Homo sapiens: one gene and its partners. The protein of the gene in region 1 interacts with the protein of each later gene in a pairwise test. Each region holds a gene or a part of one and is shown in the gene's direction. Other genes may lie near its edges.

Region 1 (3,500 bases):
GTATAGGTGTACCATTTTTTTTCTTGTATACCTTTTATTACTGTACCTTTTTCTATGTTGAGATATGCTTAGATACACAAATACCACTGTTTTACAATTGCCTGCAGTATTCAGTGCAGTAACACAATGTACAGGTTTGTAGCCTTGGAGCAGTAGGCCAAACCACCTAACGTGGGTGTGTACAAGTAGGCCAGGCCATCTAGGTTTGTGTAAGTACACTCTGCGATGTTCACATAAGGATGAAATCATCTAAGAACACATTTCTCAGAACATATCCCTGTCCTTAAGCGATGCATGACTGTGTGTGTTTCTTCACTCTATAGTTAATCATTTTCACGTGCATTTCTTTTGTTTTGTTTCTTACAACAATGTGGTGAGACAATCAGAGCATCTCTTGATTCTTCCATCTTATAAGTGAATAAACTGAATCTGAGAAAGGTTAAGTGGCTTTAGTCACATTAAATAGTTATTTCTCCTACACCATTGTTAACACATGTAAGTTTTGTATAGTTAAGTTTTGTTTTTCCTGAAAAGATTATCTGATGCATTCTGAATATTACCAGGATGCTGAGTTTTAATATCTCTTGTGCCAGCAGTAGCAAGTAAGAATTTTTGTTTTGTATAACTTTGCTTATGTGAAAGCCTTCTGTGCCTGGATCTCTTCTGAATATATGTGAATTGCTATTATGTGCTAAGTCAAATTTTGGGGACTTGCAGCTATAGAATAAGGGCTTTATGCTATAGATTTACATCCTATTGTCTTTTTTTAGAAGGCTTCTCAACCTTGTAGCTATAGTTACTCATCCTAAATTCCAGGAAGCTTCTAGAAACAGTGGAGACTTTGCAGGCTGTCCTCAGCATCTCCCTGCCTCTGTTTACGACTTACCCTTTCATCTTTTCAGAGTGCCCATGCCCAGAGAACATGATCCCCAACTTGCCTCAGACCCTGTTCTGTTCTAGGGAGTAAATCTAATTGCAAGATTTTTAGGCTTATTAAGAAACATTTGAGATTTGAAGCCCTTTAAATTATATCATTTATCATTGTCTAGAGCCTCGGATTTCACCATGAGGCTTTTGGTTAAGATTTAAATAGGTCTAGTAACTGTGCAAGCTAGGGCAATTTAGTTAACCTCTCTGTGATTAAGTTCCTGTTTGTAAAATTAGAATAATAATGCCATCAACCTCATAGAGTTATTAGGATTAGGTGAAGCACTTAGCATAGTGCCTGTCCTATAGTAATCTATCTTATTAACTATTACGTATTTTTAAAAAAAGAACCAGTGCTGGTTTGGAAATTCAGTAACTATCTGAGGAAGATAAAAGATGGATTTATATTTTAAAAATGAATAGAACCTAGATTGTGTTCTTAAGGCAACTCTAGATTTAGGTACAAATTCATCTTGCTAGGGAAGCCTGAAGTGATACCATAGTACCACTTGCTGGTGTGGATGGCTCTCTGACTCTCTGGTAGCCATTCATCCCACATGCCCAGTTACTGTTTATAGTCCTAGAAATGCAGATTCCTTCCACGTGAGGCTTACAGTTGAGCATAGCCTCCCAAATACCACATGCAGTTCGTGAACATGAGCACTTGTAGAATATTGTGTAATATCTTTTAGATTAATGTTTTGAGACTTTTTTTTTCTTTTGAAGTCCTAGAAGGGCAGTAGTGTTTCTTTGCCTTTAAAGAATATTTGGGGCTGGGTGCGATAGCTTATACCAGTAATCTCAGCACTTTAGGAGGCTGAGGCGGGAGAATCATTGGAACTCAGGAGTTCCAAACCAGCCTGGGCAATGTAGCAAGATCTCATCTCTACTAAAAATAAAAAAATTTGCCAGGCGTGGTGGCATGTGCCTGTAGTCTCTGCTACTCGGGAGGCTGAGGTGGGATGATCACTTGAGCTGAGTGATAGAGGCTACAGTGAGCTATGATTGTACCACCGCATGCACTCTAGCCTGGGTAAAAGAGCAAGACCCTGTCTCAAAAAATAAAATAAAGATGTTTGGGCTTTTGAGTTAAGAAAGCTGTGGAATTTAAGTTCACAGTGTTTATGTGATATTTATGTTAGGTGGACGGTATACTTGTAAAAAAAGAATTTAGGAGCAAATAATCGAATTATTTAAATAAAACTCAAAGCAAACTCCTTCCCCAAAAAGATGTTCATCAGATGTTAGCTACCATCCTCTGTTATCTACCAAAAATGATTAATTTGGCATAGATTACAAATTAACAAATTACACCATCACACACCTGGGTTTGATTTTCTTTTCCCAGAACTGACCAAATACATTAGCAGCTTGCTCTGCCAAGAACAAAATAAATACACTGGATTTTACAGTAGTTAAATACTTTACTAGAAAACAAGTTATTCAGTATCATATCAAGCAGTGCAATGATACTCATGTTTTTTACAGATAGACTATGTTTCAAATAATAGGAAATGTAACCTGTTTTACCAGGAAATTGGGCTTTCTGAAAATAAACAAGCAGAATCTAGTCAGGAGCTAATGTTTTTAGCAAAGGAGGGAAATAAAATTACACCTTTGAAGCTTTGCTTAAGCTTCTTTTTGAATATTTTAAAAGTCCACCATTCTTTCTGGTCTAAGTCCGTGTGTATATGGACTAGCTCACAAGCCTGTGTTAGAGAGTTTAGTGTCGGGCGCGGTGGCTCATGCTTGTAATCCCAGCACTTTGGGAGGCTGAGGCGGGTGGATCACGAGGTCAGGAGTTCGAGACCAGCCTGGCCAACATGGTGAAACCCCATCTCTACTAAAAATACAAAAATTAGCTGAGCACGGAGGCGCACGCCTGTAATCCCAGCTACTCGGGAGGCTGAGGCAGGAGAATTGCTTCAACCTGGGAGGCAGAGGTTGCAGTGAGCCGAGATCGTGCCATTGCACTCCAGCCTGGGCGACAGGGCAAGACTCCGTCTCAAAAAAAAAAAAAAAAAAAAAAAAGAGTTTACTGTCAAAATATAGGGCATTAAACCAATGAACAGGATTTATTGGTTAATTCTTTGAAGGAATAAATAGTGCGATTAGCAATAAAAGTAGATATAACATAAAAGACAAGTTGGTAAAGGACAGTTTTCTAACAATGAGTTATTGTGAGGAATGAAGGGAGGCATTAGAAAGAATGGATAATAGTATATTTGCATATCTGCCTGGATGTCTTGGGATGGACTGTGTGACCTTTTTATTCTCTGATTACAAGTAAAAAGTTTGACCTCCTTTTTCTTAATGTTTGTCTTTTCTAGATTGTCAAAAGAGTGGGGAATGGTGAGGAAACGCCGATGATTGGAGACAAAGTTTATGTCCATTACAAAGGAAAATTGTCAAATGGAAAGAAGTTTGATTCCAGTCATGATAGAAATGAACCATTTGTCTTTAGTCTTGGCAAAGGTAAGAGGGTATTTTTTTGAGTTGTGTTTTACTTAGCTTTATTACTATTTGTAATATATAGGAGCAGAGGATTCTATCCTTTCTAAAAGTAAAGAAAT
Region 2 (3,594 bases), on another chromosome or scaffold:
ATTATATACACCAACTATGTTTTGCCATAGTATTCTGAAAGTAGTACAATGGAACAGATATATATCTTATATAATATATCTTATATAATATATATCATATATAATATATAATGTCTCATTTAATATATATCATATATTATATATTTTATATATTATATAATGGAGCAATAATATAAAGGGTAGTATTAGTATAATGGAGCAGTAATATAAAGGGTAGTATTAGATGTTGAGGGTCGTAAGGGTTCTTTGGTGAAAAGTTTTATTGTGTCAGCGAATGGTTGGAGCAGTCTTTATGGGCCTACAGTGTTGGGTTCTTTTGCGTAGTTGTATATAACCTAAAATTTTTTTTTCAGTGAGTGTAAGGAATGGTAGAGACAGGGTCTCGCTATGTTGCCCAGCTGATCTTGAATTCCTGGGCTCAAGTGATCCTCCTGCCTTGGCCTCCCACAGTGCTGGGATTACAGGTGTGAGCCACTGCACCTGCCCCAAATAGCTTTTTAAAAAGCTGAAATGGGAGGAAGCTTTGCCTTTAGTCATCTAATACCTCAAAAGGGAAGTGTAGAAAAGATCTAATATAATTTTTTTTTTGTTTTGAGACGGAGTCTTGCTCTGTCGCCCAGGCTGGAGTGCAGTGGCCAATCTTGGCTCACTGCAACCTCCAACTCCCGGGTTCACACCATTCTCCTGCCTCAGCCTCCCGAGTAGCTGGGACTACAGGCACCCGCCATCACGCCTGGCTAATTATGTTTTAACCTCCCGTTGTAAAGTTTGTAAATGGTTTTCAGAGAATGTCTGAGAAATAATAGATCAAATGGTTTGCACTAACCTCAGTTGCGGAATATATTATAAAATCACAAGAAAGCAGATTGTTTACCAGTGCTCAAATGAAGACAATTAAGAATACACTGCTGGCGATCAGCTCAAGAGGTAAAGGTAGAAGAAAAAATGAGGTAGACTGGGCATGTTTAAGGCAAAGGGGAATATAAAATCTGTAAAATTCACTAGGCTGATCTATGTATGACGGTAGTTTTAGTGTTTCCTTGGTTTAGCCCTGTAAATACACCACTTAGAAATAATCATACTTGGGAACTATTTTATGTCTAGGTGCATACCAGATGCTAGGTATTAGATTTGCGGGGGTATCGCCTGCCCCCAGAAAGTTCTACCTTGACCAAGACTGTTGTAAGCCTACACACTTAGTGACGTTTAGCTTAGTAAACTGGACAGCGCCTCATACCCTTTATTAAAAGTGGTAGAAACTTCATGGCTCATCATCGGTGTCAGCAAAACTGATGTGTTTAGATGATTAAAGTCAAATGACTGAAAGTGTTTTCCTGCCTTTGTAGGTGTTCATAATGTGACAGCCCTGAGCAACCTCATAACGTGGCAGAAGGTGGATTATGACTTCAGCTACCATCAGATGGAATTCCCCTGCAATATTAACGTTTTCATTACTTCGGAGGGGAGGTCACTCCTCCCGGTATGATGAGTCATTTTTAAATGGAGGGAGGTTGACATTGGAAAAATACCTACATTTTTGCTGTTTCTTGGTACCGCTTATTAATAAGTTACATTTGTTGTAAAAAAAAAAAAAAAAAAAAAAAAAAAAAAAAAAAAACTGTGACTGCTGATCATTAAGGGAATTGAGTATTTTGCACTGCCATGGATGAAAACCTTACATCTACCAAGCTCAGGTATCAGCAAGTCATGAGACCAGCAAGGCTGTTGGCAGCAGAAACACCCACATCTGAGCATAGCGAGATTGCCTGATTTTAACATCCAGACTTCTGTTCTTGCTACCTTTGACCCATTGTTTTCTGCTAATCTTATGTGAAAAATATTTCAGAGTTCTTTTAAAATGTCCTTGGTCACTTGGTAGTTATTTTCATGCTTTGTGGTGAAATGCTCTGGTATGTCTTCAGAGTGGCTGGTAAAGAGAGCTTTTAATTCTGTGGATGATGGGAAATGCTCCCAGTTGTCAAATGGTGTGTAGTCTCTGAATAATAGTATTCACCTGCGATTGATGAGAAACCGCCTTTGACTAAGAATGAAATGGCTCAAGGATATGTTTTCTGTGTGCAAGTATTGATAGACCTTTTTAATTAGCTGCTTTTTAGAGGTTGGCTACATTTTTGTGTGCTTACTGATACCATTGAGGAAACATAAGTAACCAAGAAAAAGCTTTCATAATTATTTCTGAGGTAGTTATAAAGCATGTAAATTAATATTAAAAATAGATGCTCACTGGCTGCGGTGGCTCACGCCTGTAATCCTAGCACTTTGGGAGGCCAAGGCAGGTGGATTGCGTGAGCCCAGAACTTTGAGGCCAGCCTGGACAACATGACGAAACTTGTCTCTACAAAAAATCCAAAATTAGTCAGGCATGGTGGCGTGCACCTGTGGTCCCACTACTGAGGAGGCTGAGGTGGGAGGATCACTTGAGCCTGGGAAGCAGGTTGCAGTGAGCTGCAATCACACCACTGCACTCCAGCCTGGGTGACAGGACAAAACCCTGTCTCACACACAGAAAAAAAAACATTATTCCCTCCCCCTAAATAATAAGTGGTATTTTCTAATTCCCATAGGGGCTGACAGAGATGATGCATCTTTCTTTAAAAATGTAGATTAATTTAGGAACTCAGAAAATACAGTGTACTCCTTCTCTTTTCAGGCAGACTGCCAGATTCACTTACAGCCCCAGCTAATTCCACCAAACATGGAGGAGTACATGAACAGCCTTCTCTCAGCGGTGCTGCCTTCCGTGCTGAACAAATTCCGCATTTATCTAACTCTTTTGAGATTCTTGGAATATAGCATATCTGATGAAATAACCAAGGTATGTCTAGGTTAAAATAAAGGATTTCCCTGTGTTGAATTGCAGTATGCAACCAATTTACATTTACCATAATTACTGATAAGGTAATTTTGTTATTTGTTTTCTGTCATGTCTTTTTTTATTCCTCTGTTACTCCATTATTGTCTTTTTGTTTGAAATAGGTATTTTCCAGTGTCCCATTTTAATCCCTTGAAGTTTCTTAAAGTTATTTTCTTAGTAGTTGTCTTTGGGGGATAAACTTAACATGTTAGTATAATCATCTATTAGGGATTAATGCCAGTTTGTTTAGTTATTTTTAATTTAAAAAAAATTTGTGTGGCTAATGCCATTTTAATTATATTATACAAAGACTTTGCCCCTTTATAATTCCGTTCCTTCTCCTCTCCCTTGTGCTCCTGTCATACAATTACCTCTCAGTACATTGTATGTCCATCAACACATTTAGAATTACTGCTTTTGCAGTTGTCTTTTAGAGAAAAAAGTTAGAAATGGAAAAGACTTCTGTACTATTTTTTCTATTTGCCTATGCAATCACTTTTACCAGCACCCTTTATTTCCTCATGTGGGTTCATGTTACTGTCTAGTATCTTTTCATTTCAGCCTGAAGAACTGTCTTTAGTGTTTCTTGCATGGCAGGTCTACTTGTGCAAATTCTTTTTTTTTTTTTTTTTTTTTTTTGAGACAGGGTCTCGCTGTGTCATCCAGGCTAGAGTGCAGTGTTGTGATCATGGCTCACTGCAGCCTCAACCCCCCCAGGT
Region 3 (3,594 bases), on another chromosome or scaffold:
AGAAGAAAATAAACAGTTAGCAGACTCAATGGCTTCTCTGGCATATCTAGTATTTGTACAGGGCATCCATATTGATCAGCTTCCAATGGTCTTAAGGTAAGAGTTAGTGTTTGGTTTATTCATGTATTCTAAAAGGAATTTCATAAAATTCTCATTTATCTAATGTCCAATATATGCATATTAACACACTAATACATTTTAAATAAATAGTAAAGGCTATTTTTAATAAGAATGATCCCAGCTATAATCTGTTAAAGATAGCAGTAGACAAGTAATGAAAGTGGGGAGTGTTGAAATAGGTGTAAGGGAATGGTGGGGACAAGAATCAGAAGATGATAAACAGGGCTTGGTTTTGAAGCTTTTGAGACCACCCTGGAACTAGCCAGGTACCCAGGGGTATCATCATCTTTTCACTGGATTACTGCTGTAATCCTGAGTGGATTTATATATCTACTTTTACTTCCTTTTAATTTAACACATTCTCAACATACCAGAAAGCGAAGCCTTAAAAGAAGTCCCTTACTGAAAACCCTCCAGTGGCTTTTTATTGCTTTAAGAATAAAGTCTTAATGCCTTTGCATAACTTCTGAGACAAACTTGTGCCTGGTCTGGTCCCTGCTTAATTGACCTGATTCATCTCCTACCACCTTTCCTCTTGTTTACTATGCTCCAGTGACACAGACCTTCTTTTGTTTCTAGTTTAAATGTTATGAATTTTCCTATTTGGCCTTTGTATATGCTTAAAATTCTCTTTATCCTTAAATGTCACTTTCTGAAGAAAGCCTTCACTCACCACCCAATTTAGGTTGAATCCTTCTATTATAATTACCTTGACCTTGTCTTCTTTTCCCACAATGTTTATTAAAATTATTTTTAAAATATATAATTTTATAATGTAATATCTTCTGGACTTTGAGTTCTATGATAATAAGGATTGTGTATTTGTCTTATAGGCATTGGGTATTTGTGTGAGTTTGTGCATTTATATATGAATATAGCTAGGAGTACATTCGTATGTAAATGTTGAAATACTGGCTATCATTTGCATGTTCACCATGTATGAAACATTATGCTAATAACTTTATATGCATTATCTCATCCTTATAATAAGCCTGTGAAATAGAGCATTCTCTCATTTTACAGATGAAAATAACAGGCTTAGACAAGTTAATATACCACTGAAGATCTAACTACTTTGTGGCATAGGTGGGATGCAGATAGCTCTGTCTGACCCCAGAGCCTATACTCTTAAGCATCACATTCTATCACCAAAATAACTTATACAGCATATGTATATTAACTTGCTAGGGCTCCTGTAAAAAAGTGCTACCAACTGGATGGTTGAAATAACAGAAATAGTTTGTCTCATAGTTCTGGATGCTCCTTCTGAGGGTTGTGAAGGAGAATCTTCTCCATGCCTCTCTCCTGGCTTCTGGTGATTTGCTCACAATCTTTGATGGTCTTTGGCTTGTAGATGCATTATCCTGTTCTCTGCCTTCATGTTCGTATGCTGTTCTCCCTGTGTGCTTGTGTCTGTCTCCAAACTTTCCTTTTACATAAGGACAACAGTCATATTGGATTAGGGCCCACCCTAATAATCTCATTTTAAATTGATTACCTCCATAACCCTATCTCCAAATAAGGTCAAATTCTGAGGTACTAGAGGTTAGGACTCCAACATATCTTTTTTGGGGGAGATACAATTCAACCCATAACAATATGTATGTGTGTACATATCTCTGTGTGTGTGTATAATATATATATTTGTTTTGTTTCTATTTTAGCCCATTGTACCTTTTGCAGTTTAATATGGGGCACATTGAAGTCTTTTTGCAAAGGTAAGATCGTTTAGATGGTATCTCAAAATGAAATAGTAGTGTTAAAATAGTCCTTGTTAAGATCAGCGGAGACTGCCTTTTCTTTGCTAAGCTCTAATTAATTAATTGGTTATTTTATAAAACAGCGAGGCAAATAATTCACGAGAGAGACAGAAATGAGTCAAGGAGGTTTTACACCAAAGTCTGTTTTATTTTAAACTTAAGACAGTATTAAGATTTTGTCTTAAGGGCTTTTACAGTCATCTGTTTCTAAGGTTTCTTCTCTTACTCCAAAAGTTGGTAAATTAAAACACCTCTACCCCACTGCATCCTCCTCCATCTTAAGGAAGGGCAGTCAATAAAAGAAGTTCTTCCGTATTTTTCCTTCATGGACACAGTCTGTGAATTGCATCAAAAGGAAGGAGGTGTCTTGACTTCCACCTTTTATAATTTAGATTATTGACAGTGATGTCATTCAATTACAACTTTTCTCATTTGAGGTGCTAAGCAGCAGGACTTTCTATTTAAAAAAAAAAAAAAAAAGCCAGGCACGGTGGCTCACGCCTATAATCCCAGCACTTTGGGAGACCAAGGCGAGAGGATTGCTTGACCCCAGGAGTTCGAAACCAGTCTCTCTCTCTACAAAAAATAGAAAAAATTAGCCAGGAGTGGTGGCGCCTGCCCGTTGTCCCAGCTACTTGGGAGGTTGAGGTGAAAGAATCACCTGTGCCTGGGAGGTCTGGGCTGCAGTGAGCAGAGATCATGCCACTGCAGTCCAGCCTGGGCAACAGAGTAAGACCCTGTCGCAAAAGAAAAAAAAAAAAAAAAGGAAATTACAGAGTAACAGGTATACATAATTTCTAGACAGAAATTAAAGAATTTCACAGAACTATATGCTTTGTTTTCTTTCACTATAACATGTAACATGTTTAAATTATCCCCTGAGATCAGTTAGGGCTTTGCAATTATCCTCTATGAACACTAGTGACAGTTTATCAGTCCCATCTCTTACCAGGTGAAGGAAGATTTGTAACATGGCAATGTCCAAAGCTTCAGCATACAAGGCAGGAATTTCCAAGGGTCTCCTGGCACAAGTAGTTACTAATTCTGTAAATTTGCTGTATTATGTATGTTTTAATGATTTTATATTCATTACATTTAGTTTCTGTTATTCATACAGTGATAATATGTATTGTTTTGAATCTAAGTCCTAAATTCTTGAGATTTCCAAACTGCAGAGTCATTGAGTCTTTTTTTGAATAAAAAGAATTGGAAAGATTTTACAGAATAATCAACTGGAATATATAGCATTGGTTATATCAGGTTTAGTTAGTTTCTTAGCACTTGCTGTTGAAGATCTATTGTTTTGAAGTTAGGAAATAATCCCTGAGTAGATTTATTTTGGTCAGATTTAGTGGCCTTAGCCAAACCGAAAGACAGATCAAAGATGGATTAAAACTTTTGATCAAGTTCTTCAACAGAATTTCTCCTTAATGATATGCATTTTAAAAGTGTTAAAATTTCAGTTTTTGCTGTATTTTTCATAAGATGAAGTATCATTCTAAAATAGTTTACAAATTCATGATAAATTTTAATATTATTTTTCAGAACAGAAGAGTCTGTTATCTCCAAAGGATTGGTAAGATGTTTGTTCCCATTATAACTTAAATACATAGTTATGTCAACAAATAACAGCTGTTGACTTCACTATATATGTATCTGCATATATTTTAATCTGTAGGAGCTGCTGGAGAATAGTTTATTGAGAATAGAAGAC
Region 4 (3,594 bases), on another chromosome or scaffold:
CATTGTGAATGACACAATCGTTGCAAAAGCATTTTTATAGGGGGATGAATTTTGTATTTCAGAGGACAAACAGTTCCATACAATGGCAAGATCTAGTGTGTGACCACGGGAGTTAGTGTCTGAAGTGGATTGGAGAAGCAGATCATTGGAGCTGAGGTTGGCTAGAGCTGTTCTCATGGGCACTAATGTCATGGAGTCAACAGCTGTGATCCAAGTGCCCACATCTTCAGTGAATGACAGAGAGGGATTGAGAGTTCAGTGAATGACCGCTAAAAGAAGAGTAATGGAAGATGTGGCTGGATGGCATTAAAATCCAAGGGACAGGGGTTTTTACTTAAAAGTAGAGAAGTAATGGTTTTGAAGTGGTAGTGGGGAAAAGGGAGGCAGCTTATGACACTTGTCAGTGGTCAAAGGTATGAGGAAGTTATAGAAAAACTAACATCCACTTGAGAATATTATAGGGAAGCAGTGAGCTCAAGGTCTCATTTAAGGAAAGGAGCCAAAAGGAAATTCACCAGAGGTTAGCTTTTAGGTAGTTTTTAAAGCAGGATTGAAGAATGGAGACTAAACAGTGAAAATGTTTGGGAGAGAGAGGAGCAATAGATATGAAGCTAAACAGAGGAAGCACAGAACAGAATGGAGATGAGTATGTTGGGAGGAAAAGGAATAGTCAGAGGCTTATATTTTGAGTTGTGACCAAGGAAGACAGGGTGGGAATCCTCGTGAGGTTATCTTGTTTCAGATTTCTAGTAGAATGAGTCCCAGGGATTCCAGGGGGGATGGAAGGACTCAGGCTTCCCTATAAGGAGTTGGCTAACGGATCTCATTGGTTTTTGAGTAACTCCTGGCCCAGATGGCACTAGTTCAATGGAATTATTTTGTTCCCCCAAAACTTATTGAGTTGGAAACAGGTCTAACTCCTGGGATCTGGGAAGCCTTTCTGGAAAGAGTCACCCACGATCTGGCTGATGTTGAACTGTGCAGACACCATCATATTTGGTTATGTTAGGATGCAATAATTGGTGAAGCTTCTGTAGTGTTGAATGAAGAATCCAGGTTGGAAGGGATGAAAGGGTGAGTGGGTGATGAGGTTTGTCAGCACAGACTGCAATTTTGAGAAATGTGGTTATAAAATACCATACCTTAATACCGCAGTGCTTTACCACTCACAAATGCCTGTAGACGTATCTGGCAGAGAGGAAAGGGGTTGAATGGCAAGAATGTGGGAAGGGACTGTGGCTAGTTAGTGAAAATAGTCTACACTTGGGACATAAAAGGCATTTCAAGCTGACCTACTAAGAAGCTCTGTCTCTGACTCAGCCAGCTGGCTCTCTCCTTCCCTGTCATGTTTTCATTTTCTGTCTTTTCTCTAGTTTCTCAGGATGGTATAGTGGAGTCAGACAAGTCTGAATTTGAGTCTTGGCTCTGACTATTCCTAGACATGTTTTAAAAGTTACATTGAGCCCTGGTTTTCTCTGTAAACTGAGGATAAGCATGCTATCCCAAAGGTTGTATCCCTCACTGGTCACCAGCTTCCTGTCTTCTATCCACCTGTCTTCCTCTTCCTCTTTCCCTAGTCCTGCATATTGAAAAACATTTTTTTTTTTTTTTGAGATGGAGTCTTGCTCTGCCACCCAGGCTGGAGTGCAGAGGCACGATCCTGGCTCACTGCAACCTCTGCCTTCCAGGTTCAAGCAATTCTCCTGCCTCAGCCTCCCGAGTAGCTGGGATTATAAGCATATACCACCACATCTGGCTAATTTTTGTATTTTTAGTAGAGATGGAGTTTCACCACATTGGCCAGGCTGGTCTCGAACTCCTGACCTCAGGTGATCCGCTCGCTTTGGTCTTCCAAAGTGCTGGGATTATAGGCGTGGGCCACTGCGCCAGTCTGAAAAACGTATTTTTAAGCACATACTATCATATCTTCTTGTCTTTTACCTGGAATTTAAGCTGGTTGTTTGTATTACCTTTTCCATGGACATTTATATTTATAACCAATCAGAAGGTTTAAATGTCAGTGTAGGAATTTTGTGCTATGGAAGCTTCGTGGCTTGGTGAATGGTAAAATGAATAATGTGTGTATATTTGAAGCATCAGAAAGAGAAAATGCTGGGAAGATTCATAGAACCAGTTAACATTTGAACTAGGAGTCATAAGAAATTTTTAAAATACTTAAATGGTTTATGAACCTGATGTGGTAGCTACATGAAACCTGCATAGCTGCAGGTATGCTATGGTAGGTAAACTCTCCATGCTCCTGCTTCCATTGGACCATTTGGCTCCAATGTCTCCAGGTCTTTGTTAGATCAATACTGGTCCTAGCATCTCTGAAAGTCCTAGCTTTCTAAGATGCTGTTGAAAAAGAGGATTAATCCACATAACTCTGCATCTGCCATTTTGCCCATGTCCCAGGAATGCTGGGCCTAGCCCTTCCTTTCTGAACTGCCAGAACACGTTCTCAGTTGACATACGTCTTTGTAAATACTGATGTTGGTGTTTGAATTCTCAATTGCCAATGGCACTGGAAAATAGCAAAAGATACTTGGAATACTAAGCATTCTTTTTTTCCCGTAAGTTTCTGTAGTGATGGGAACCTAGTTAATGGCTTTGGTTTCTGTGCCTCATAACCACATGAAACATTTTTAATTTGGGGCTCAGAATGTGTTTTTCCCTTTTATTTCTCCACCACTACCATTTACCCTTTCTCCCTTCTTCCTCCTACAATTTGTTCCTTATTCTTTTTTGATTTTTTTTGAGGGGGGGGGTCTAACTTATTTTGGTCTCTCTTCCCTTTTCATCTGTACTGTGTATTTCCCTTGTTTTCAACTTTGAATTTAAGACTTTAAAAATAGCTTTAAAAAGATAAAGATTTCTTTATTTTCTAATACCATCTAAAGATATATTTTTTAGTGTGGTCTCCTTGTGTTGTGTTTTTAAAAGGGTTTCATATTGGAGAGCCTGGAAAACTTAAGCAGTTGTAAACTTTAGAATATCATTTCCAGGTCAACTTTGATCTTATATGCCAAGTTCATCGGTGGGGAAAAAAATTAAATCTTTCACATCTAAATCAATAACTAGTGTTCCAAAGGAAACTTCAAAGTTTCACTTTAGATTTTTAAAGAAGGGTAATTCCTTCAGTATCAAAGAAATGAGATGTCAGGAAAAGCCAGAATCCCTTTGTTTAGGACACAGTCTAGTTACTTGACTTTTCTTGTCCTTTTTCTTCCCCCTCTGAATGTAAAAATCTTCTTCTTCTTCTTCTTTTTTTTTTTTTTTTTGGTCTCTCAAGAGACACTTTTACTATATTCTTTGAGATGACTGTTTTTGATTTAGAGGCGAAATCAGCACGTGGTGGCTCAAATCTCCTTATGGATAGTGTTTCTTCCTTCCAGCTTTTCATGTTTCAACTTTTGCGGGGCCTGGCGTACATCCACCACCAACACGTTCTTCACAGGGACCTGAAACCTCAGAACTTACTCATCAGTCACCTGGGAGAGCTCAAACTGGCTGATTTTGGTAAGTCGCCCCTCGGGTCTCATTCTGGGCTGTGAACAATGATGCTTTTGTGTGCACTTGTTTAAGCGTTGACTG

The links.
Region 2: the proteins of FKBP5 (region 1) and MCMBP interact in binary tests that used the Homo sapiens proteins (3 or more experiments, as listed by UniProt).
Region 3: the proteins of FKBP5 (region 1) and GLMN come close enough for resonance energy transfer, tested with the Homo sapiens proteins (one study listed by BioGRID).
Region 4: the proteins of FKBP5 (region 1) and CDK15 interact in binary tests that used the Homo sapiens proteins (3 or more experiments, as listed by UniProt).

Annotation. Positions count from the first base shown.
Region 1 is NC_000006.12:35,636,916-35,640,415, reverse strand, and holds part of FKBP5 (peptidyl-prolyl cis-trans isomerase FKBP5), read left to right. Parts: intron 1-3,257; coding exon 3,258-3,402; intron 3,403-3,500. UniProt on the Homo sapiens protein: Immunophilin protein with PPIase and co-chaperone activities. Component of unligated steroid receptors heterocomplexes through interaction with heat-shock protein 90 (HSP90).
Region 2 is NC_000010.11:119,834,782-119,838,375, reverse strand, and holds part of MCMBP (mini-chromosome maintenance complex-binding protein), read left to right. Parts: intron 1-1,346; coding exon 1,347-1,480; intron 1,481-2,671; coding exon 2,672-2,836; intron 2,837-3,594. UniProt on the Homo sapiens protein: Associated component of the MCM complex that acts as a regulator of DNA replication.
Region 3 is NC_000001.11:92,267,967-92,271,560, reverse strand, and holds part of GLMN (glomulin), read left to right. Parts: coding exon 1-96; intron 97-1,784; coding exon 1,785-1,838; intron 1,839-3,425; coding exon 3,426-3,456; intron 3,457-3,558; coding exon 3,559-3,594.
Region 4 is NC_000002.12:201,830,453-201,834,046, forward strand, and holds part of CDK15 (cyclin-dependent kinase 15), read left to right. Parts: intron 1-3,395; coding exon 3,396-3,519; intron 3,520-3,594. UniProt on the Homo sapiens protein: Serine/threonine-protein kinase that acts like an antiapoptotic protein that counters TRAIL/TNFSF10-induced apoptosis by inducing phosphorylation of BIRC5 at 'Thr-34'.